Linked DNA regions of Homo sapiens. The protein of the gene in region 3 interacts with the protein of the main gene of each other region in a pairwise test. Each region holds a gene or a part of one and is shown on either strand. Other genes may lie near its edges.

The links.
Region 1: the proteins of TEAD4 (region 3) and PRDM14 interact in binary tests that used the Homo sapiens proteins (3 or more experiments, as listed by UniProt).
Region 2: the proteins of TEAD4 (region 3) and CCDC125 interact in binary tests that used the Homo sapiens proteins (3 or more experiments, as listed by UniProt).
Region 4: the proteins of TEAD4 (region 3) and RUNX1 interact in binary tests that used the Homo sapiens proteins (3 or more experiments, as listed by UniProt).
Region 5: the proteins of TEAD4 (region 3) and DYDC1 interact in binary tests that used the Homo sapiens proteins (3 or more experiments, as listed by UniProt).
Region 6: the proteins of TEAD4 (region 3) and NUTM1 interact in a two-hybrid assay, tested with the Homo sapiens proteins (one large-scale study listed by BioGRID).
Region 7: the proteins of TEAD4 (region 3) and SSX2IP interact in a two-hybrid assay, tested with the Homo sapiens proteins (2 studies listed by BioGRID).

The regions. Positions count from the first base shown.
Region 1 is NC_000008.11:70,057,753-70,061,252, forward strand, and holds part of PRDM14 (PR domain zinc finger protein 14), read right to left. Parts: intron 1,091-3,500; coding exon 888-1,090; intron 1-887. UniProt on the Homo sapiens protein: Transcription factor that has both positive and negative roles on transcription. Required for the maintenance of embryonic stem cell identity and the reacquisition of pluripotency in somatic cells.
Region 2 is NC_000005.10:69,326,302-69,329,801, reverse strand, and holds part of CCDC125 (coiled-coil domain-containing protein 125), read left to right. Parts: intron 1-3,500. UniProt on the Homo sapiens protein: May be involved in the regulation of cell migration.
Region 3 is NC_000012.12:2,965,897-2,969,396, reverse strand, and holds part of TEAD4 (transcriptional enhancer factor TEF-3), read right to left. Parts: intron 1-3,500. UniProt on the Homo sapiens protein: Transcription factor which plays a key role in the Hippo signaling pathway, a pathway involved in organ size control and tumor suppression by restricting proliferation and promoting apoptosis.
Region 4 is NC_000021.9:34,829,303-34,832,802, forward strand, and holds part of RUNX1 (runt-related transcription factor 1), read right to left. Parts: intron 1-3,500.
Region 5 is NC_000010.11:80,335,605-80,339,755, forward strand, and holds the end of DYDC1 (DPY30 domain-containing protein 1), read right to left. Parts: intron 3,550-4,151; coding exon 3,493-3,549; intron 2,968-3,492; coding exon 2,863-2,967; coding exon of another isoform or gene 2,812-2,862; exon of another isoform or gene 582-2,811; coding exon 552-581; 3' UTR 501-551; downstream 1-500. UniProt on the Homo sapiens protein: Functions as part of axonemal radial spoke complexes that play an important part in the motility of sperm and cilia. Plays a crucial role during acrosome biogenesis.
Region 6 is NC_000015.10:34,355,775-34,358,235, reverse strand, and holds the end of NUTM1 (NUT family member 1), read right to left. Parts: coding exon 745-2,461; 3' UTR 501-744; downstream 1-500. UniProt on the Homo sapiens protein: Plays a role in the regulation of proliferation. Regulates TERT expression by modulating SP1 binding to TERT promoter binding sites.
Region 7 is NC_000001.11:84,659,462-84,662,961, forward strand, and holds part of SSX2IP (afadin- and alpha-actinin-binding protein), read right to left. Parts: intron 3,070-3,500; coding exon 2,994-3,069; intron 2,915-2,993; coding exon 2,737-2,914; intron 1-2,736. UniProt on the Homo sapiens protein: Belongs to an adhesion system, which plays a role in the organization of homotypic, interneuronal and heterotypic cell-cell adherens junctions (AJs).

The DNA.
Region 1 (3,500 bases), on a different chromosome or scaffold from region 3:
CGTCCTGATATTTTTAAATCCTTTTAGAATTACACAAATGCATGATAACTGTAAATGTATTCAAATTTTATAGGAGTATATAATATAGTGATTAAACATGACTTTTCCAGAAGCTTAGGAAGGAAGGGAGAAATTAGGACAATTTTATGATGATTTTATTCTCAGTTTTCAAAACAGGAAAATGGGCTCAAGGTCGTAGCTGCCTGAGGTAGTTCCGACAAGGCCAACAGTCAAGCAAGAATACATCTGTGCCCAAGCCTCGTCCTCCTTTTAATTAAGCCCAAGGGAATATTGTACTTTTTTGCAGCAAGCCTAGCAGAGCATCCAGGTATTTGGAATGGCTCCGTAATGTCATTACTGATTTTCTGTCTTACAAAATCCTCGGCCCACTGTAGAGGCCTTCCGCTCCTTGGAAGGACCGTGCCTTCACTTCCTTCTTACCTATACCTGTCAACACACCTGCACAGATTTGGAACAAGGCGCAGTTCCCCAGGAGCACATGCCAGGCTCTCTCCTGTCTGGAACAGCTCGACTCTTTCCTGCCCAACTAACCCTGCCACCAGTATAAATCAGACACCCCATTTGTCCTTCTATACTTGGCTCAAGGCCACCTCTGTGCATCTTTCATAATCCACGTGTCCAGGTGGCCGTGGACACTCCTTCCTCCATGTTCCTCCCTCTGTGGGTACCTGCATCCTAACACATGTGCATCGCTGTGCCTATTCACGCCTGCCTGTTCCGTAATACTATCCTCTCCTCCTTCAGAGAGGGTGTCCGTCAGGCATCACAGCCCTGCAGCTAGCACCTACAAGGCAACTCCCCGTGTTCAGGAGCTTGGGAAGGGAGAGAGAACGTGATGGTGGGTCATGTGTCCTCCTAATACTCACCTTGTGAGGCCGGTGCTTCTCATGAACATGAAGAATGTGGATCCGAAGCCGGTCCCGCTTCTCAAAGGATCGTTTGCAGAGAGAACAGGGAAATTTCCTATCGCCCTTGTCCACACAGGGGGTGTACTTGAGGTGCTTATCTCTGTAATATTTGTAGGTAAATACCTTCCCACATCTTTCACATCTGTAGCCTTCTGCAGACTCTGTCAAACACAGCAAACACAATGTCTCTTCAGTTACTTCCCTCCCTAGTTCCTTCAAGAGGATATTTATTTATTTATTTATTTTTAGCCAAGAATTCTTTGGCTACTTCAAGAGGAATTTTCTTTTTTTGAGACAGAATCTTGCTGTATTGCCCAGTCTGTAGTGCAGTGGCACGATCTTGGCTCACTGCAACCTCTGCCTCCCAGGTTCAAGCGATTCTCCTGCCTCAGCCTCCCAAGTAGCTGGGATTACAGGTGCCCACTACCACGCCTGGCTAATTTTTGTATTTTTAGTAGAAACAGGGTTTCATCATGTTGGCCAGGCTGGTCTAGAACTCCTGACCTCAGGTGATCAGCCCCTCTTGGCCTCCCAAAGTGCTAGGATTACATGCGTGAGCCACTGTGCCTGGTCAAGAGAATTTTCTTTTCTTTTCTTTTTTTTTTTTTGAGATGGAGTCTTGCTCTGTCACCCAGGCTGGAGTGCAGGGGTGTGATCTCGGCTCACTGCAACCTCCACCTCCCGGGTTCAAGTGATTCTCCTGCCTCAGCCTCCCAAGTAGCTGGGACTACAGGCACACACCACCACGCCCAGCTAATTTTTGTATTTTTAGTAGAGGTGGGGTTTCACCATCTTGGCCAGGACAGTCTTGATCTCTTGATCTTGTGATCCACCTGCCTCGGCCTCCCAAAGTGCTGGGATTACAGGCATGAGCCACCATGCCCGGCCGCCAAGAGAATTTTTAAAAACCTTTTTATTACAGAAAAATGTAAACATACCAAAGTGAAAATAATAGTGTAATAAACCCTCATGTGCCAAACACCAAGCTTTGACCAACTCGTAACTAATTTTGTTTTCATTTATATCACCGCTCGCCATAGTAGATTATTTTAATACTAATTCATCCTTTGACTCAAAAACATCTAACCGTAATCTTTAGAAGATGACATATTTTTAAAAAGCATAATTGTGACCAGGCAAAGTGGCTCACGCCTATAATCCCAGCACTTTGGGAAGCTGAGGCAGGTGGATCACCTGAGGTCAGGGGTTCAAAACCAGCCTGGCCAACATGGTGAAATCCCGTCTGTACTAAAAATACAAAATTAGCCAGGCGTGGTGGTGCCTGCCTGTAATCCCAGCTACTTGGGAGGCTGAGGCAGGAGAATCACTTGAACCTGGGAGGCGCAGGTTGCAGTGAGCCAAGATTGCACCACTGCACTCCAGCCTGGGCAACAACAGCAAAACTCCATCTCAAAAAAAAAAAAAAAAGCATAATTGTGCCAGGTGCAGTGGCTCACGCCTATAATCCCAACACTCTGGGAAGCTGAAGTGGACAGATCGCTTGAGCCCAGGAGTTTGAGACCAGCCTGGGCAACATAGTAAGACCCCATCTCTACAAAAAAATAATAAAAATTATCTGGGCATGATAGCACACGCCTTTAGTCCCAGAGGCCGAGATGGGAGGATCACCTGAGCCTGGGGAAGTTAGTTGAGGCTGCAATGAGCAGTGATTGAGCCACTGCACTCCAGCCTGGGCAACAGAGCAACACTTTGTCTCGAAAAAAAAAAAAAAACATAACCATAATGTCATTGTCACATTGTCATACCTAAACGATTAACTCTTATTCTTTTATAGAAACATATATGTACTTATATATGCACATTTATATACACACATATATATTTGTTTAATTACTTTCTGGTCAGTCCATTCAAATTAGGCTTCAAACAAAGTCTACATGTTGTATATGGTTGCTATGTCTCTTAAATATCTTAACCTATAGGCTCTCTTTCCCTTTTGTTCCTTGATATGTACTGTTGAAGAGACCATTCCACCAGCCCCATTTAAGGGCAGTGCAACCCTGCAGCTCTTGAACACATTCCTGCCTGGCACTTGTTACAAGGTTAATACACTGAGGCACTGAGGCCGACCTATTTCTCTTTGTGCCTTTAAGATCAGCCTGAGTTACAAGCTCAGAGCAGTCACCAGGACACCCGCAGCTCACAGTGCTGTTCTATTCTACACAATTCAAGGGACCTTCTTAGTTTATACTTCATTACTCAAAACTTGTGGCAGATTCCAGAGCTAGAATCTTTATGTATAGAGTAAGGTTGAAAGCATCTTGACTTCCCTAATGCACAGGGTTACCGTGATGACTAATTTAATTCTAACACTTACCGAGTCTTACCAATGTGAGTGATACTATCACTGAATGGCAGACAAGACTGAGAGGTAAATCTGTTTTTATCAATGGAGGAGGGAGGAGGAGAGAAGTTAGAGAGGGTGCAGCTAGACTCTAGCAAAGCAGGTCCCACGTCCAGGGGTGTCTATGTGTTGGGGGAAGGCGAGAGAACAGGGGCCACCTACAAAAGCATCCCTGCAGAGGACACTCTGGATCCCAGAGGATAAAG
Region 2 (3,500 bases), on a different chromosome or scaffold from region 3:
GCTGGGCTCGGTGGCTCATGCCTGTAATCCCAGCACTTTGGGAGGCCGAGACAGGTGGATCATCTGAGGTCAGGAGTCCGAGACCAGCCTGGCTAACATGGTGAAATCCCATCTCTACTAAAAATACAAAAATTAGCTGGGTGTGGTGGCAGGCACCTGTAATCCCAGCTACTCAGGAGGCTGAGGTGGGAGAATCACTTGACCCAGGAGGCAGAGGTTGCAGTGAGCCGTGATCACGCCATTGCACTCCAGCCTTGGTGACAAGAGCAAAATTCCGTCTCAAAAAAAAAAAAAAAAAAAAAGACTTGAATCCTGGCTGGGCATGGTGGCTCACACCTGTAATCTCAGCACTTTGGGAGGCCGAGGCAGAAGGATTGCTTGAGCCCAGGAGTTTGAGACCAGCCTGGGCAATATAAGGAGACCTCGTCTCTACAAAAAATACAAAAATTAGCTTCTACAAGAACAAAAAAATTAGCCAGGTGTGGTGGCACATGCCTGTAGTCCCAGCTACTCGGGAGGCTGAGATGGGAGGGTCACTTGAGCCCAGAGGTCGAGGCTGCAGTGAGCTGTCACTGCACTCCAGCCTGGTCAACAGACTGAGACTCTGTCCATATAAAAATAAATACTTTAATCCTAAACGTTGACACATCTATTTTAGACAGCATATATTGATATGTTGGTTCAAGTCGTCTTTTAAAAGTCAAAGGTAGGCCGGGCGTGGTGGCTCACGCCTCTAATCCCAGCACTTTGGGAGGCCGAGGCCAGCGGATCATGAGGTCAGGAGATTGAGACCATCCTGCTTAACACGGTGAAACTCCATCTCTACTAAAAATACAAAAAATTAGCCGGGCGTGGTGGCGGACACCTGTAGTCCCAGCTACTCAGGAGGCTGAGGCAGGAGAATGGTGTGAACCCAGGAGGCGGAGCTGGCAGTGAGGTGAGATGGCGCCACTGCACTCCAGCCTGGGTGACAAAGCGAGACTCCATCTCAAAAAAAAAAAAAAGTCAAACGTATAAAGTATGAAGGAACCTCTGTGTTTATCTATTCAAGATTACCATATAGTACAGAATCAGCTGTAGATATTCTTAGATTTTGTAGTACTGTTAAAATACAATATTATAAAAATGGTATATGGAAAAATACTCTAATCCTACTAATTTATTTTTATCTTTTGTTTTTCTTCTAATCTTTGTTCTAGTACAGACAACTTTGAATTCTGCTTTTTATGTTTTACACTTGTATATGTGAGCATTTATCATGTTGCTGCCTAGTCTATACTACATAGTATTTTTATTTTTATTTTTATTTTATTTTTATTTTTTGAGATGGGGTTTCACTCTTGTTGCCCAGGCTGGAGATTATTCTTAAACTATGTTAAATACACTATAACTCTAATACTTATTTAATTAATTTTGTTTAATTACATAGTATTTTATAAAGTTGTTAAACCAAGATTTAACTATTTCTTTATTGTTCAACATATTTTATTATTTTCTAATTTTGTCCAATTAGAAATTAAATGGTAGAGTAAATTGCTGAATGCATTGAACATAAAACAGGCATAAATACAGACTCATTTTAATTTAAAAAATTAAAACAAAAAAAGTCCAGGCTTGGTGGCTCACGCCTATAATCCCAGCACTTTGGCAGACAGAGGTGAGCGGATGGCCTGAGGTCAGGAGTTTGAGACTAACCTGGCCAACATGGTGAAACCTTGTCTCTACTAAAATACAAAAATTAGCTGGGCATGGTGGCAGGTGCCTATAATGCCAGTTACCTGGGAGGCTGAGGCACAAGAATTGCTACAACCTGGGAGGCGGAGGTTGCAGTGAGCTGAGATTGCGCCATTGCACTCCAGCCCTCAATAAAACCAAAAGGACACTTTTATTCCTAGCAAAACCTAATAGTCTGGAGAACATGTTCCATGGAGCACACTTTGGAAAATGCTGATACAGAAACAATTTTAGAGCTCTGAAGAACCAAAAATCTAGTCCCCTAAATTGACAATTGAAGAAAATAGTATTCAAATTCAATAAACATTGATTTGGCTACCATAGTTGATTTCAAATATATCAGTGGTGCCCAAAAATGTCCCAATAAAGTAGTTATGCTTAAACCCCTGTTAAGAAATAAAACAGGCTCTAAGAAGTTAAATGACTTACCCAAGATCAAAAAGTGGCAAGTGGTGAAGTGAGATTTGAACCCAGACCTCTCGAGTCAGTGCCTTCTCCGTTAACACATCCTGCTGCTTCCCTGGTCATCAACCCTGAATACATTAAACTGGTTGGATAGTTTAGTGACTTCAAATATTTTCACTTTCTTGGAAGTAATGTGTTTCAAAAGTGAAGTTTAATTTGTATGGTATTTCATGTTACCTTACTATCAGCATATAAAAAGTGGGAGAATAGGCCAGGCGGGGTGGCTCATGCCTGTAATCCCAGCACTTTGGGAGACCGAGGCAGGCAGATCATGAGGTCAGGAGATCGAGACCATCCTGGCTAACGCGGTGAAACCCCATCTCTACTAAAAATACAAAAAATTAGCCGGGCGTGGTGGCGGGCACCTGTAGTCCCAACCGCTCAGGAGGCTGAGGCAGGAGACTGGCATGAACCCGGGAGGCGGAGCTTGCAGTGAGCCGAGATCTCGCCAGGGCACTCCAGCCTGGGCGACAGAGCAAGACGCTGTCTCAAAAAAAAAAAAAAAAAAGTGGGAGAATATACAGTCAGCAGTCCCTGAAGTTACATTTTATTTTATTTATTTTTAGAGACAGGGTCTTGCTCTGTTGACCAGACTAGAGTGCAGTGGCGTGATCACAGCTCACTGCAGCCTTGACTTCCCACCTCAGGCTCCCGTGTAGCTTGGGACTACAGGTGTGCACCACCATGCCCAGCAGTTTTCTTTTTTTCCTTTTTTTGTAGACATGAGGTCTCACTGTGTTGCCCAGGCTGGTCTGAACTACTAGGCTCAAGCAGTCCTCCTTCTTTGGCCTCACAAAGTTCAGGGATTACAGACATGAGCCACCATTCCCAGCCTGAAGTTAAGTTTAAGAAACAGTAGGCAGGGATAAAAAACAAACAAAACAACAACAAAACCTCATTATATTCAACTCTGAATAGCAGGAAGGCGTACCCATGATGCCTGAATTTATGTGGTGCATTGAAAAATATTCTTAGCTAACTCTACAATTGCTTACTCTTTCCTTTTACAGCTTTTCCCCCTTATATTGACCAATTCCATTTTCTTCTCTGCTGCCTGCCTAATCCTGACCACACCCTTCTTAACACAGGCCAGAGGTTGCCCTTAACAAGCAGGAGTCTACTGCACTAGAGGTAAAACACAGCCTCTCAAGGGATTATTCTTTGATTCAATAAATATCTTCTTATCTACCTTGACAAAATAGGTAAATCTCCTTTTTAAGGAAATAATCTTGTAAAAGAACCAAGATGATTTTATAAAAATCTGGGAAAAAGTGGATCCAGAATCTGTTAGATGTTGCTCA
Region 3 (3,500 bases):
CTGAAACCCGAGGATGCTCAAGTCCCTCATATAAAACGGTACAGTGTTTGCACATAACTTACGCACATCCTCCCATGTGCTTTAAATCATTTCTAGAGAACTTATCATACCTAACACAACGCATGCACATCACTTCATTTGCATGGATTCAATGCAGCATTCAGTGAGCAGCAAATTCAAGTTTTGCTTTCTGGAACTCTGTGGAATGTTTTCCCCTGAACACTGTCGATCCAGGGTGGGTCGAATCCATGTGGAACCTACAGATACAGAGGGCCCACTAGTTTTATGTGGTTTTACATAATGAAGTAATAGACTTCAGGTCAGATGGACCTAACCTGCTACTGCTGTAAAGGGTGCCTACCTTCTAGAAATGAGAAATGACAGCACCCAGATGCTGGGCAGGTTCTAAGTCCTCATCCAGCCTCTGTTAAGACACTCACAGGCCCAGCACAGTGGCTCATACCTGTAATCCCAGCACTTTGGGAGGCTGAAGCTGGAGGATCGCTTGAGGCGAGGAGTTTAAGACCAGCCTGGGCAAAATAAAGATAGCAAGACCTTGTTTCTACAAAAAGTTTTAAAAATTGGCAGGGCATGGTGGCACAAACCTGTCATCCCAGCTACTTGGGAGACTGAGGCAGGAGGACCATCTGAGTGCAGGAGTTTGAGGCTACAGTGAGCTATGATCACACCACTGCACTCCAGCCTGGGCAACAGAGCAAGATCCTATCTATTAAAACAAAACAAAACAAAAAAAACACCAGCCTGGGAAACACAGCAAGATCCTGTCTCTATGAAAAATAAAAATTAAAACAAAAAAAATGTTAGGCGGGCATGGCATCACCTGTGGTCCCAGCTACTGAGACCTGAGTAGCTGAGAAAGCTGAGGTGGGAGGATCACTTGGGCGCGGGAGGTTGAGGCCACAGTGAGCTGTGATTGCAACGCTGCACTCTAGCCTGGGTGACAGAGTTAAGACCCTGTCTCACAAAAAAAAAAAAAAAAAAAAAAAAAAAGGCCGGGCGCGGTGGCTCACACCTGTAATCCCAGCACTTTGGGAGGCCGAGGTGGGCAGATCACCTGAGGTCGGGAGTTCGAGACCAGCCTGGCCAACATGGAAAAACCCTATCTTTACTAAAAATACAAAATTAGCCAGGCATGGTGGCAAATGCCCGTAATTCCAGCTACTCAGGAGGCTGTGGCAGGAGAATCGCTTGAACCCGGAAGGTGGAGGCTGCGGTGAGTCGAGATCACGCCATTGCACTCCAACCTGAGCAACAAGAGCGAAACTCCGTCTCAAAAAAAAAAAAAAAAAAAAGACCCACATGTTTGAGATCAGATCACTGGTTGGGGGTAGAGGAAGACCCACAAAAATGGCGAGCTCAATACTTAACAGCTCAGGATATATAAACTTTCCAAAACCAGATGTGGCTTCCAATGTGGCCAGAGGGTCACAGAGCTTAGTGAGTAAAGGTTTCCCTTGACACAGACCTTACCACAGCACTGGCCCACACAGGCTTATGGTTTAATGGGGCAGTTTGAGAGTCAGATTGACCTGGGTCCAAACTCCAACTGCAGTATAACTTCTACAGTGTCCCCTCTGTAAAGTAGAGGTTGAAAAACAAAACAAAAACAAACCAAACCTTTCTCACAGGGCTGAGAGGATGAAATGAGATGATGAAGGCAGAAATGTCTAGAATAATGGTCTAGCACCTAACAGGCATTAAAATGTTCATTTCCCTCTTCCTTCGTTTTTCAGCCCAAAACCCCAAGCCTTTTCCCTCAACATGAATGAAGAGTAAGTCCCACTCTATTCTAGACTTACATAATTGATGCTTTGAACTTAAATGCAGGATGTTACACTTAGACCTATTACATTTCTTCTTGAGATAAGTATATGTTCAACATTGCTCAATGTCAAGTAATTTTTAAAAGCTAAAAACTAAAAACAATGTTTTAAAGTCAGTAGGGCATAGTTAAATATAGTATAGTCATAGAATGCAATGTTACTTGGATCCTTAAAATTATGGTTTTAAGTATTTTTTATGACATGCACTATTACCCATTAGATAGCATTCAGTAGGGAAAAAAACGGGATAGAGTATAATTGCAATTATGTTAAAATATATAGATTTGCATGAACACAAATTTGGAAGGACATTCACCGAAATACCAGCCCACCCGAATTATAGTATTATGTATCATTTTTTTCCTTTATGCCTTTCTTTATTTTCCAGGGTTCCTACAATGTACATATATTAATTTTAAGAGAGAAATATTTTTAAACTTCATCTTTCTACTTAATGGCAGCATTCCAGTCAACTGAGATGATTTTGAACCCTGGTTCTATCAGCCAATGTTTGCTACCCTCAACGCCCATAAAAACGAGAAACAGGGTCAGGTGCGGTGGTTCACTCCTGTAATCCCAGCACTTTGGGAGGCCAAGGCAGGTGGATCGCCTGAGGTCGGGAGTTCAAGACCAGCCTGGCCAGCATGGTGAAACCACATTTCTACTAAAAATACAAAAATTAGCCAGGCGTGGTGGCAGGTGCCTGTAATCCCAGCTACTCAGGAAGCTGAGGCAGGAGAATCGCTTGAACCCAGGAGGCGGAGGTTGCAGTGAGCCGAGATCGCACCACTGTACTCCGGCCTAGGCAATAGGGCGAGACTCCATCTCAAAAAAAAGAAATACGCCGGGCATGGTGGCTCACACCTGTAATACCAACACTCTGGGAGGTCAAGGCGGGCAGATCACAAGGTCAGGAGTTCGAAACCAGTCTGACCAATATGGTGAAACCCTGTTTCTACTAAAAATACAAAAAAATTAGCTGGGCATGGTGGCGTGTGCTTGTAATCCCAGCTACTTGGGAGGCTGAGGCATGAGAATTGCTTGAACCCAGGAGGCAGAGGTTGCAGTGAGCCAAGATCACGCCACTGCACTCCAGCCTGGTGACAGAGCAAGACCCATCTCAAAAAAAAAAAAAGAAAGAAAAAGAAATGAGAAACAGAAGACACAGGCCACACAGGCTCCTGGGAGAGGCTCGTATCTATGGAAAACATAGAGGACTAAGCCAAAGACAGCCCTGCGGCACATCACGGGGACCTCTTCACAGTAACACAAGCTCAGGAGTTAGGAGTCAGCATCCAGCGTAGTGGGTCAAGCAGTCACACATCCATCTCCCTGCTGTATCAGCCAGACCACACTGCTTTCTCTTGTACCAAGAAGATCATTAGACTGAAAAGGCTTACTGAACATTCCTCCACCCAAGTTAGAGTTGTTTTCTCCAAGACTTGGTAGAGTGAACCCAGGTTGGCTACTAGGTATCTCACTTCATTTTCACACTCTCCACATATTTTTGTTCAAAAATCTAACCTAGGCTGAGTGCAACCGTGTACACCTGCAGTCCCAGCTACTGAGGAGGCTGAGGTGGGAGGATTGCTTGATCCTGGGAGGTCAAGGCTGCATAAGCCATGACCGCATCACTGCACTCCATCCTGGGTGACA
Region 4 (3,500 bases), on a different chromosome or scaffold from region 3:
TGGGTGTGCTGGCCTACATATTTACAAGCATAAGGGGAAAGTTCAGAACATATGCAGTCTACAGAAGAAATATTTCATCACTAAGATCAAGCCCTGCAGTGAATCTCTGCAGTCATCCCACTGGTTTTCATTTCTTCTCTCTCTCTCCCTTCTTTCCTTTAATTATTTTTATTTATTCCTGTGAACACCTGATTCAGGCTTGTTGTCGGGGTAAGATTATAATGCTATAGACCTGGAAAGGCTCTCATACCCTACTACACCTTGTTAAAAGCTATTTTTAAATGAAATCATTCACCTGTCATGTTTATAGCCTATTATATAAATTAATTTCTCACATTCTGAATATGTTACTTTGTGTAACCATTAAATGACCATTTATAGATTCACATATGAGGATTTCTGGTGTTTGATTGTAGCCTCCACTTTCAAGGTAATCAAATAGTCCCTACTCCCTTTGTTTTCAAACTTCAAATTGCTAGAAGAGTAAGGAAGAGAGGGAAGGAGAGGGAGAGAGAAAGGAAAGCAATGCAATGCAGTTGGATATTTTACCTCCAAGGCTGGAAAGAGGATTTATCTCCTTCTCCTACAGGAAGGTGGAAAGGTTTTCTTCCTTTTGTCTATCCAGATGATAAAGAGAGAATCAGACGGACTTAAATAACTCTATACAACTGAGAAACAGGGTCATTTCAGTATCTCAGAGTTTTGCAGACAGCAGCACCAGAATATAGTCCTTCCTAAGTAACTTTAATTTTGGGGGAAAATAATTAGCAAGACAGAAGTTACTTGGAATACTAAAAATCAAGAGATGATTTGAGAGGTCAGGGACCCCTCTTGGCCATATGGAACACTCAAAGTGAGGCACGCATACTCATAAAAGTGGATTAGATGTTGACTGGGTTTGGATGATAAGCACTTGGTCCCAATGAACTTCAAAAGTAGGAAGGCAATGGCCCCAATAAAGTAAACAGAGTGGCTGGTAAGCCTTCTCCCTGCTCATATACCCCCTCTTTCACTCTTATTTAGAGATTCATTATTCTGAGTTTTCTTTTCTCCCAAACTTTATAAACAAATGCACATGTACCAAAGGAGACAGTTTATTAAGGTGCCCACCACACAGCCTGGCCCCAAAATTCTTCTTATTATCAACATCTAATTATAATAGAACATGTTCAATACAAGAATGCCAAGTGAGTGGATAGCCCAACACTTTTTCCATCCCTCCTTTGGTGATTGGGATTCTTCTCGACACTGGTCAGCCCTGTAGTAAATCGATCCTTGACCCAAGAGTGCACGCCCAGGGAACGGCCATCCCACTTGCACTGGCTTTGTAGCAAGGAAGGTCTGGGTTTGCGTCCAAGTTCATCACTTACAATCTTTGAGATACTGGGCAATTTTTAACCTCTGAATTTCGATTTCTCTGTCTATAAATGATACCACAGGATTGTTGAGGGAATGGAATAATATGTACAAATGTCTGACCCACGTCAAAATAGCTCACAACTGGTCCAGTTAAAGAGTTAAATCTTCTTCCTACATGCTTATGACAACCAGCATGCAGAAGAACAACAAAATGGGCTTCCTAGTTTATCTAGGTTTCAGTTTTCTGTACCAGCATCTATTACTCCATCCTCATATTCCCAGAAAGGAGGAAATTACGACACCTTAAATGTGATACATCATATTTGGTCAATCAGGGGTGAAATTTTAAAATCACTCACTCGGGTTGCCCAAACCCATCTCTAGGTGGGAGTTGTGACTGAACAGGCATCGGTACCACTAGCTCTAGAATCTGCCCTGTTCTATCTTTTGAAATAAATTAAAAAAGAATTCTAAGACTCGATCGTAGAAGTTAATGATGGTGTCCTGACTGGGAGAAACGTGTAGCCCAAGGGTCTACTCATGACAAAATGGCTTTCTATTCTATTTCATGACAAAATGGCTTTACCAGTTTAAGACCTGGTAAAATAGGAAGTTGAAATAAACCTCAGCCCTTTAATAGTTAAGACCCCAACAAATAAACAGTGGTTTAGTGGCATGACAACTTGCCCCCTCTCAATCTGTACCGTGCTTCAGATAATTTGAGATGTCTATTTTGAGTGACCCTCCAGCACATGTGATTCTAGGTAAGTATTGGTGCTATTCTATATCAGTATTTTCTTGCTGACAGAGTCAGAGGAGCTGGCATAACCCTTCTGACAAAGTCCTAGCAAGGTAGGGTTCCTGAGCCTTTCTATAAATCCCGGCAAGCTCGCCAAACCCCCGGTTACTGACATTTCTGTAAAGCTGAAAAACATTCATGCATCTGGACAGCACCACTGTGGAACTACTCTGACAAATTGGATATTTTTCTGAAAACTACCACTGCCATTTCAAAGAAAGCCAGAAACACATGCTGTATTTCTTAAAGTATCTTCGTAAATATAACATAGAAATTTCAGGGCTGAGCCTGGAAAATAAGCATTTTCCTACTGTCAAGAACAAACTGAAGGTCTTGGCTGAACAAGACTTGCATATTATACCTGTTAACTTTCCAATTTCAAGAGAAAAAGCCCAAGGGTCTACTCAAAACATGATTAGCGTAAAACAGCGTTTTCTTATAGGAAAGAAAGAACAAAAGGAAAAGGAAAAGTTGTTTCACATGAAAATATTCTGGATACTTATTTTTTAAAAGTTGTTCCTAAAATTTTACAAGTGAAGTACTGAATATCAAATTCATATTTTGGAAAGAAAGAACACCAGCAATATAGTTCACACATTCTTTAGAGTAGCAACCAAGCCCGTAGGAACTCTAAAAGCGAGTTATGATTTCTTAAATGTTGCAGAAGTAAAAGTTTTCAAGAGGAACAAAAAAGGGGCGATGCTTAGTGTTAAACCTGATACTCTACTAAGCATATAGGTCTCCAAAGAGCTGACGAATGCCCATCACACGGTCCACAATAATGCTTTTGCCCAGGAGCTTCAGAGGATGAGAACTCAATGTGCAACTTCCCCCCATTTTTTTGTTTTTGTTGTTAAAGAGGCATATCTGATGAAGAAGGAAATCAGATTAGATTCACTCTTCACCAAGAAACAGAGCAACTCAATGGTGACAATATCAATTTTCCCCCATGTGGCTGAATTTTCCATTGCCTTTAAAAATGCTTAAGACTTTTTGTTCCCATATCAGCAGAAAAAGGCAAATCCCTTAATCAACCTAGTAGTATAAATGGCCAGTTAGGCAACGAGAGACTAAGAAAACAGTCTTCCTTTTGATTTTACACATGAATAGATGATGTGAATTAGTTTTCTGAAGATTATGTGAATTAGTTTAAATGACCTTAAAGGCAAGATGAAAGAATCTCCTTGAGAGTTGTATCCTCTTTGGAAGCAAAGTATTGTTTTGCCCCAAGCCCATCTCGCTCACTGAACATACCATTTGACTTAATTTACCATATACGCTTGTATTTTGGAATTTAAAAAAAATCAATGTACACATTTTAAATCATTATTAATGATTATTA
Region 5 (4,151 bases), on a different chromosome or scaffold from region 3:
ATGATCTTGGCTCACTGCAACCTCTGCTTCCTGGGTTCCAGTGATTCTCCTGCCTCAGCCTCCTAAGTAGCTGGGATTACAGATGCCCACCACCACGCCCGGCTAATTTTCTTTTGTATTTTTAGTAGAGACGGGGTTTCACCATGTTGGCCACACTGGTCTCAAACTCCTGACCTCAAGTGATCCACCTGCCTTGGCCTCCCAAATCGCTGGATTACAGGTGTGAGCCACTGCACCCAGCCAGCAACTGTCCTCTCAGGCAGTCTTGCTCTTGCATAGACGCACATATTAGTTCAGCTCACCTCCCATTTGCCTCTTTTGGTTGCTTCAGCAAACTCTCCTATTTTCCCAATGGAAATGTATAAATAACCAGTTGAACTGAAGGATCCAAAATAATAATTTGAGGCTACTCTTGAAGCCCATTCATAAGCAGTCCTTAGAGGAAAAAAAAAGGGGAGTTCAAGTTTGAAGGAAAAAAATACAAATTGGGAACCTCATGGTTTGAAATTTGAAACAAACAAAAACATTTATTGCTCTTAGGTTGGTTGGTCCTACAAATCTTGATCAATGTTTAATGCAATCTAAAAGCAAAACAAAAAGTAAATATTCCTTAATACAATTAGAACTGTGAAAAGGCACAAGCCAAAGAAATAAACTTTAGGTAACTTCTATGTGACTACATGAATGAAACTTTTTGGGAGTTTCAGATGATTTCAAATGATACTCAAATTGAATATAACCATAAATTATGTTCTCAAAGTAGTTATTGTTCCATCCTTTCTTCTACTTCTCTTACTATGCATTCTCATCCTTCTTGTAGGCTCCTCTTCCTGTGGCCATCCCTTCAATGTTAGAATTGCTAATGGTTCCTCCCTGAGCCCCCAGGCCTTCACACACTGCACTCTCTCCTAGGTACCTTACTCAATCCCCTTGCTTCATTCAGCACATATGCCCATGACTGCTGAATTTATATCTCCGGCCTGGGCCCCTTCCTAACATCAACTGTTCTTGGCTGTTTTCACCTGCATATCTCAGAGCCACCTGAGAGTCAACATCTCTGCAACTGAAGCCATCATTTTTTAAAAACCTGCTTCCTCTTATGTTCATCAACTCATCAAATGTTAACACTCTTAACTCAGTAGCCCAAGGAAGACATTTAGGCTTCATCCTGACCCTGCCCCGCACTGATCCTGTAAGCCAATCTTAAATCCACTCAGTTCCCTCCATCTCTGCTGTCTAACCCTAGTCATCTTACATCTGGATCAGTGCAATAACTTCCTAAGTGGTCTCCCTTTTTCCACTCCTGCTCCACACCAATCCTCTCTCCACCTTATAAAAACACAGATTGAATCTTTAAGTCCTTTCAATAACTCCTACTGCACTTAAGTCCAAAATCCCTAAGGCAACATACAAGACCCAGTGTGCTCTGCCTTTATCCACCTCTCCAGCTTAAAATCACACCATTTTCCTAGCTCCATGGACGTTAGCCATTAATACTGGATGACTTCAGTCCCTTGAAAGCATTTTGCTGTCTCTTTCCTCTGGGCTCATCTCAGGCTAATTCCTTGAACTTCACCTCCTGAGGAAGACTTGTCCAGCCCAGGTCAGGTCTCTCCCTACTCTGTCCCTCAAAGAAGCTTCCCCATTGGCCCACGGCCCCCAAGGGCAGAAGCCCAATCCATTTTGTTCATTGGCATTTTCTAGCTCCCTGCATAGTGCCAAATCATAGCTGACCTTTAATAAAACTTTAAACAATTAGCACTGAGTCTGTGCAGCTCCATTTTCTGAACAGCTCTTGAAAACAACATTTACTTCAGGCCATCGACATCTTGTCCCCTAGATTACTACCTCCTAAGCCATCTCCTGACACCTACTTCTCCATTTTCTTCCCCACACTGTTACCAGATGGTCTTTGCAAAATGTAGCTCTCATCATATGAGTCTCCACTGCCTTCAGGATAAAATCTAAGCCTCTGAACAGAAATGACAAGTGCTTTCATGGTCTGGCCCCTGCTTTCTCCCTGGCCTCAGCTCTCACCCCTCCCTGCCTCACTCCCTCTACACGCTCTCCTATCTGGGTCTTCACACCTTCCATGCTCTCTGCCTGGAGCACTATCCTCAGCCTCCCATGCCACCAGTGAGTAGCAAATCATTAGCTTCCTTCCCTGACTGAGGTTCCTCAACTGTGCTGGCTGTCCCCCCTTGTCCGTGTACACCAATTAAAGTGACCAAAATGTACCCTTCTTCCAGGACAGTCCTGGCTTACATCTGCTGATCCGGCTCTCATTCTCAAAAGCATACTGGTTTGGACAATAAATTATGTGGTCCCACTAACCATGACTATTAAATGTTCATCTAATTGTCTGTTTCTCCCCTGACAATAAACTCCATAAGGTCAAAGCCATCTGCCTTATTCACCACAGCATCAGGCACAGTGCCTGGCATATGGAAGATGTGGCATGTTTCTTAAATAAACAAATGTACTTACATACTGGAGAAGCATGCATTCTCATTAAGGCATTAATTTGGTTCCAGGGTTTGCTACTGAGAACAAAAATCGTGCCCCCCACACCAAATTTAAAGATTATATATTTCACAAAATGATTTTAAAACATATTTTGAAGAGGTTTTGAAGTCACAGATACGGAGATATAGATAAGCCAGTGACACACTTCACAAAAGGGCAGAATGCCAATTAGGAATATAATCCGCAACCAGGGAACTGATTTTCTTTCTCTGAAGCAAAAGGCCTATTTGCCAACCAATCCTGGCCTAGCCTCATTTTCCCTAGGCTTTACCTAAGTAAAAAAAATCAAAAACAAAAACAAAAACGAGTTTTTTCACAAAACACACTGATACTGACATCAGAAAACATTGGTTCATCAAGTTCTTCCACTCTGCTCAAGTTAGGTGCTCCATAACGATCGCTGATTTCAGCTAGTGTTTTGCCTGAGTCTAGTGTTGCTTCCTACAATCAAAAAATTGATTTTTACTTTTAAATGATTTCAAAATTAATACATTACTTTTCTTTCAATTTTGATTAAAAATTTTCTGATTTATAACATTAAAATTCAACATTATTAATTAGTGGAATTAACCAATTTCTGTTAATGACAAGAGAATTCTGGTAATGAATTGAGTATCCTAGAATGCAAAGCTACAATTCTGGTAATAAATACTAGAACTTTTTTTAAAAATACCTGCAGAAATTTAAAATAATTGTAAGTAATTATGTGGTAAATAGCTTCAATATCTCAAGAGAGCCTAGTTTTTAAAAATCCAAACACAAACTGAATGTCCAATTTTTACCTATTGTGAGATTTTGCTTCAAAGCACATTATTTGTGACTTGTTATCACCGGAAAATATACATGGACTATCAGTTTTGATAATATACTTGCTAAAAATTTAGCTACTTATGCATCAAAATTAAGCTTTACATTCTAGGATACTCAATTCATTTCACATAACATAGAATGACTTTTTCTTCTCACCTCTGAATGTAGAATATCTTCATTCCTAACTAGATTTTCCATATTCATTCTCATCTCCTATAATATATAAAAATTAAGAAAATACTTTGAATATACTCCATTTTGATTTCATGTTTAATTTTTGGCATTTTTACTTTTACACAATGCTATGATGAATTTAAAGCAAAAATGCTGTCACTCTGAAAGAGAATGATCTGATTACACATTACAAAACTGCAGATCACAGTCTTATTTAATACTCTATACTAATAGAAGGCAACCATGTTTTATATATAATTAAATAAAAGTTTTTTAAAAATGAAATGGACTGAAACAGTCAAACTGAAGCCAAATTATCTGCCAATATAAAAAGTGACAAAATAAAAATTATAATAGAACCTTAGAACAAGAGATTTTTAAGGAGAAAACCACACTTAAGTAGAGTTTTGCACATACCGAGAAAGAAGTAAACACTTCTACAGGAACTAATCTGGCCCAATGCACAAGTCCTCCCACAGGACCTGAGCAATGCCCTCTTTAATACTCTGAGCACTGCAGTAGGAATATACTGCCCAATAAGGGAGGCCTCTTTCTGAATGTGAAACATTCTTCTAGTCAGCCAAACCTTGCTATGCCATCTACCTTTTCATTCTAAAGCAGCAGGGTGGCCTAACTGACCC
Region 6 (2,461 bases), on a different chromosome or scaffold from region 3:
TGCACACCTGTAGTCCCAGCTACTTGGGAGGCTAAGCTGGGAGGATTGTCTAAGCCCAGGAGGTTGAGGCTGCAATAAGCCATCGTTATGCCACTGCACTCTGTAGCTTAGGCTACAGAACGAGACCCTGTCTCAAAAAAAGAAGAAAGAAAATTAGATCTCTATCTCAGAGATCTAACAGGTAGAAAAGCATCTTTCTATCTATAGACTTCAAGGGAGGCAGATAATTATAAGATGCCCAGATAAGCCTTCCTGACACCAAGTCCAGGCTTGTGAAGAGGGGATGTATAATGTGATCATTGGAGATTCCTCAGTTTGGAGACTTATCACAGCCTGAGAGCCAGTCTGTTGCCAGGAGGAGGCTGCAGGGAGCCAAGATAAGGCTGGAGACAAGATTTATGGATTTGTAGAATCTAAGACTACCCCTACAGCCTTTCTTCATAGCATCTTAACCCTATCTAGCAGCAAAGACACGAGTACAGAAAAAGGGCACTCTGAGAGCATTTTCCAACAAAACACTTTATTCATTTTTTTTCTATATAGCTCCTTCCAAAGGTAATTCCCCCTGCAGCCTAGCCAGTCTGACCTCTCTCTCCATGCTTGCCACTTTTGCAGAACAACAAAACAACATTGGGATGAGATTCAACATTGGGATTCTCCATTGGTGGGCAGCAGGGGTGGAATCTACTCTGGGGCACCCACCTTTAGGGACTGGCAAGTGGGGTCAGATGGTCCCGCTGCTCCCTACTGGCTACGACGTCGTTTCTTCCTTCTGCCCGTGACAAAACTGTCACACCGCCTTTTACGAGGCTGTGAGGGTCGAACTACTCCCAGAGCTAGGGGTTTCTCCCTGGGGACCCCAAGTTGAGCTCCTGAGTGGGGTGTCTTTTCAGTAGGGGCTGGACCTCCAGCTAGAGCTCGCTTCCCAGACTTGGCAACAGGATATGGAAGTTTGCTGGGGCCTTTTGCTCCAGCAGGGAGCAGGTGGGATGCTCTCTGGCTGCCCTGACCTCCTGAGGCATGGTGAGGACTGAGGGGATGCTCCCTTGGTGAGAGGCTAAGTTTAGAGGCCAAGAGGTAAGCAAAGTTGGAGAGTTCCTCATCCTCTTCCTCTGCTTCCTTTTTCTTTTTCTCCTTTCCTTTGGCCCTGTCTGCTGACCTGTGTGTTTTACTAACAGAAGTTTCTCTCGGAACTATGGCATTCCTGGTTCCCCTTCTAGGCAAAGTGCTTCCAAGGCCCTGGTGAGAAGATGTTGCTTTGGGAGTCCCAGTTGTGTAAGACTCCTGACTCTCTTGTAAAGGAGCAAGGTTTTTAGGCTTGGACAGATCAGGATCCACCCTGCCTTCTCCTTGGGGGTCATAAGAATGAACATTCAGTGGGCAGGTGTCCTCGCTGACCCTTAGTTGGAGGCCACAGTCATCTTTAACATCTAGTATGTTGACAGGTTCTATGGTTTCCAACAGAGGAGAAAAGGAATTGCCTCTGCTCCCTGCCTCTTGACTGGCTTCAGGCAAGGAGGAGGCATCCTCAGTCCCCATGATAAGGAGATTGCCTTGGCATGTGGGTGGAAGGGTTTCTTTGGAAGACCCCAGTGTGGAATCACCACTTTCTAGCAATGGGAAGCAACCTTCTGCCCACAGATCACTGGGATGCCCTACGGTTTCACAGCTCTGTTCTTGATTTTCTTTGGACCTCAAGGGTGGGCTGTTGGCCCTCAAAGGTCCTGGCAAGCTGCAATAGTTTCTCTTTTCTAGGGCAGCTGCCGCAACTGTGCCTCCACAGGGAATCACACTGCTCTCCGTATCCCCAGGTACTAGGGTTTCTCCAGGACCCAGGGAAATGTTGCCCCTGGAGCCCAGTCCCTGGCAGCCTTCCTGATACTCAGTTACACACTTCTCAACTTGGAAGCTCTCTATGACCTCCTCTATTTGTACAGGCAGCTCCAAGCCTACAGCATCCATCTCACTGCTCAGCCAAACTCCTGGGCTGAGACAGACATCGTCCCTCTCCCCAGCTGCTCTAGGGGAAGGATTCTGATCATAACTCTGAGCCATGGGGGTACCTCTGTCATCTCCCCACATGGCTCCTGAAGAGCCTTCCCAGGGCACTGCTAAAGGCTCCTTCCCTTGAGGAAGCACTCCACGACCCCCTGTTTGTTGTCCTTTCTGCAATCCCAGGACTTGCTTTTCTAACCCTTGTCCTTGCAGAGGAGCCAGCTCTGCAAGTCCAGCATCCAAACTGGGAGTGCTCTCAGGCTGGAAGCCTCCCTGCCAACAAAGGGGCAGAGCCTCTGAAGTCCTATCAGCCACCAGGCAGTGCCCAGGAGGCCCAGCGCCTCCTAGATGGCCATCCTGATGTAGAGATACCTGGTTTATAACCTTCCCAGACCCTCTCCTCTCCACACCCAAGGGTCCCGGAGTTCCCTGTGGAGCTGCAAGTTCTGGCTGCAGGTCCCAGCTG
Region 7 (3,500 bases), on a different chromosome or scaffold from region 3:
CTGAACATTTTAAAGCCTATTAGAATACTACCAATCTGTTAGAAAAATTATTGGCCGGGCGCGGTGGCTCATGCCTGTATGTAATCCCAGCACTTTGGGAGGCAGAGGTGGGTGGATCATGAGGTCAAGAGATCGAAACCATCCTGTCCAACATGGTGAAACCCTGTCTCTACTAAAAATACAAAAATTAGTTGGGCGTGGTGGTGCATGCCTGTACTTCCAGCTACTCAGGAGGCTGAGGCAGGAGAATCACTTGAACCCGGGAGGCAGAGGTTGCAGTGAGCTGAGATGTCACCACAGCACTCTAGCCTGGCGACAGAGTGAGACTCCATCTCAAAAAAAAAAAAAAGAAAGAAAAATGAATAATTATTGCACATTTCTCAGATTGAACAGAACTCTCTAACCACAAAATGAAAATAAAAAATTCGGCTGGGCACAGTGGCTCATGTCTGTAATCCCAACACTTTGTGAGGCCAAGGTGGGATGACTGTTTAAGCCCAGGAGTTCGAGACCAGCCTGGGCAACAAGACCCTGCCTCTAAAAAACCAAAAAACAAAACAACAAACTCATTTTACCTGAATTTTCGGTATATGTTTTACAAGTAAGTAGGTCAAATAATAAATGAAATGTGGATGCTACCTAGGCATTCCAACATTACATCTTATTTCTCTTGCTATAATGCTTCAAAAATCTTTCCCTACAAAAATTAAAGAGAAAAGGGAGCTAGAAAAATGGATCTTTTAAAACTAGAATATATATTTAAGAGGTCATTGTTCATCCACTTAAACATGTGAATTATGAAGAATTATACAGGATACTACCCACTGGCTGAGTAATGGGGGTGAGGAGGGTTTAATCACTGAAGAAAGATCTCCCTGACTTACCACATACTTTTGCTAACTGAAATCTGATGATGAGACGTTAAGGTTGGACCAAAAACTGAAGATGCTGCAGTAGTAATGGACACTATGCTAACCTTGAAGAAGTATTAGTGAATGCTAAGAACTGACTAGAAGTGACAGAGTTTGAGATAAGAGGTTAACTACATATAAGAGGTCAAGCAGGCCTCAAAATGGAGAATGTAAAAGATATTCGGGAATTTGAGACCAGCCTGACCAACATGGAGAAACCCCGTCTCTACTAAAAATACAAAATTGGCCGTGGGTGGTGGTGCATGCCTGTAATCCCAGCTACTCTGGAGGCTGAGGCAGGAGAATTGCTTGAACCCGAGAGGCAGAGATTGCAGTGAGGTGAGATGGTGCCACTGGACTCCAGCCTGGGCAACAAGAGCAAAACTCTCTCTCAAAAAGGCCAGACGCAGTGGCTGACGCCTGTAATCCTAGCACTTTGGGAGGCTGAGGCAGGCGGATCACGAGGTCAGGAGATTGAGACCATCCTGGCTAACATGGTAAAACCCCGTCTCTACTAAAATACAAAAAAAAAAAAAAAAAAAAAATTAGCCGGGCATGGTGGCGGCTGCCTATAGTCCCAGCTACTCAGGAGGTTGAGGCAGAGGAATCACTTGAACTCGGGAGGCAGAGGTTGCAGCGAGTCGAGATTGTGCCACTGCGCTCCAGCCTGGCAACAGAGCAAGACTCCGTCTCTTAAAAAAAAAAAAAAAAAAAAAATTTAGGTAATTTTTTTTTTTAAATGTTAAGGAGAAAAAAAGGTAAGTGCTGGGATGGGCTTATCAGCTGGACTGATTTGTGATACCACAAAATAAATAATCCTCAAATACAGGTTTAAAAAACAAGTTCTGGTATCTTGCTGTTAACTAGCATTTTCCATCAACATTATTTTCAGATTTTTATCACTAATGTGAACTTGCTGAAACCTACGATTTTAACTTATACGTAAAGCAATTAAGTAAAATGAACTTTTCACCATTATGTGATTTTTTTTTCAGATCTCTGCATATATTACTCCCATTCTCTGGAATGCTTTCTCCATGTTTTTTTTTTTAACCTCAAAAATACTTATTTTCTAAGAAGCAGTGAAAATGTCACTTTCTCTGTGATGCCTTGATTGCCATAACTATTCTGTTCTGCACATTGTACCACCTTATTACAGCACCTAACACATGTAATAATCACTTCTCCACGTCTGTCTTTCCCAAAAAGAGCTTCTTGAGGGAAAAAGTCAAAATCTTTTTAGCCTTTCCTTTCCAGAGACTAGAACATAAAGAACACCCAATAAATTTATATTTGTTTCCCAAAGTTAACAGAAGTTTCACTCTGTGAAAAGTAGAGTACATAATACTAAAACAACTGAAAGGATATTTGACATAGTGGTTATGATTGTGAGCTCTGGAGTGAGAAACTTGGATTCAAATCCTAGCACTGTCATGTGTGATACTGGGCTACTAAATATTATGCCTTAGTTTCCTTATCTATAAAATGGGGATATTTATAGTATCTAAATCATCAAATTATAATATATGAAATAATCTCATATGTTATGAGGAATATTATAAAATGAGACAATGCTTATAAAGCACTTCTTAACAGTGCTTGACATGTATTAATTCCCCGGAAAATCATCTCCAGCATTTTTCAGGAAATGTCTGAAAACACATAGGAACAGTCTTTTCAGTTGTCACAGTAATTGAAAGTAGCATAGCAGTTGAGTGTCCTATTCAAAATACCAATAGTGTCCCCATTGAGAATGCCTACCACATATTTTAATTATTCTTATTAGCAATCTGAAGACTGTATTAGAGAGGAAAGAGCCACTTACAGTTCCTGTACTATCATCTACTCTTTCTCTAGGTTTCTTCTTTTGGGGAGAAAGAAGAGAAATCATTTCCTTTTTCATTTGTTGAAGAACCTTCTTAAGTTCTGCATTTTCCATTAGGATTTGTTTCTGACGATATTCATAATCATTCAAGAGAATTTTATACATTTCATCTTCATTCCTGAGAAAGAAACTGTCAGTATGAAAATGCAGGATAGAAGGAAGTCTGATTACATTTATCAATTTAAACTGGACTTTACCTGGCTTCAGTTTTACCAGTCCTCCAGGAGCCTCTTTTTCCATCAGCTCTCCCGACATAATTCAAAATGTCCATAGCTACAAACATGAACACATAAAATTAATTCTTACCATACATGCTTAAGCATCTAAAACTCTAATGCATTCTATACACGTAAGTGGTGAAAGTGAACCTGGTATATAGGTTAGGATTTGGGCTTAAACAGCCTAATTTTCGAGTTTCTAGTTCCACCACTTGTAAGCAATGAGATCTCGGCACATTATTTAACTGCTTAGCCTGTTTCTTCTTGGACACTGGGAATAACAAAAGTATCTACCAAAGAGTTGTTGAGAAGACAAAGAAATAACTATTAAAGCACCCAACACAGTAGAGTGAACACAGTATCTGGCGCACAGTAAGTACTTAATAAATGTTACCTTATCATTATTAATTTCATTATCAGGGTTGCCTGATAATGGCCCACAGGCTGGCTGCCTGATTTTGTAAATAAAGCTTTATGGGAACACAG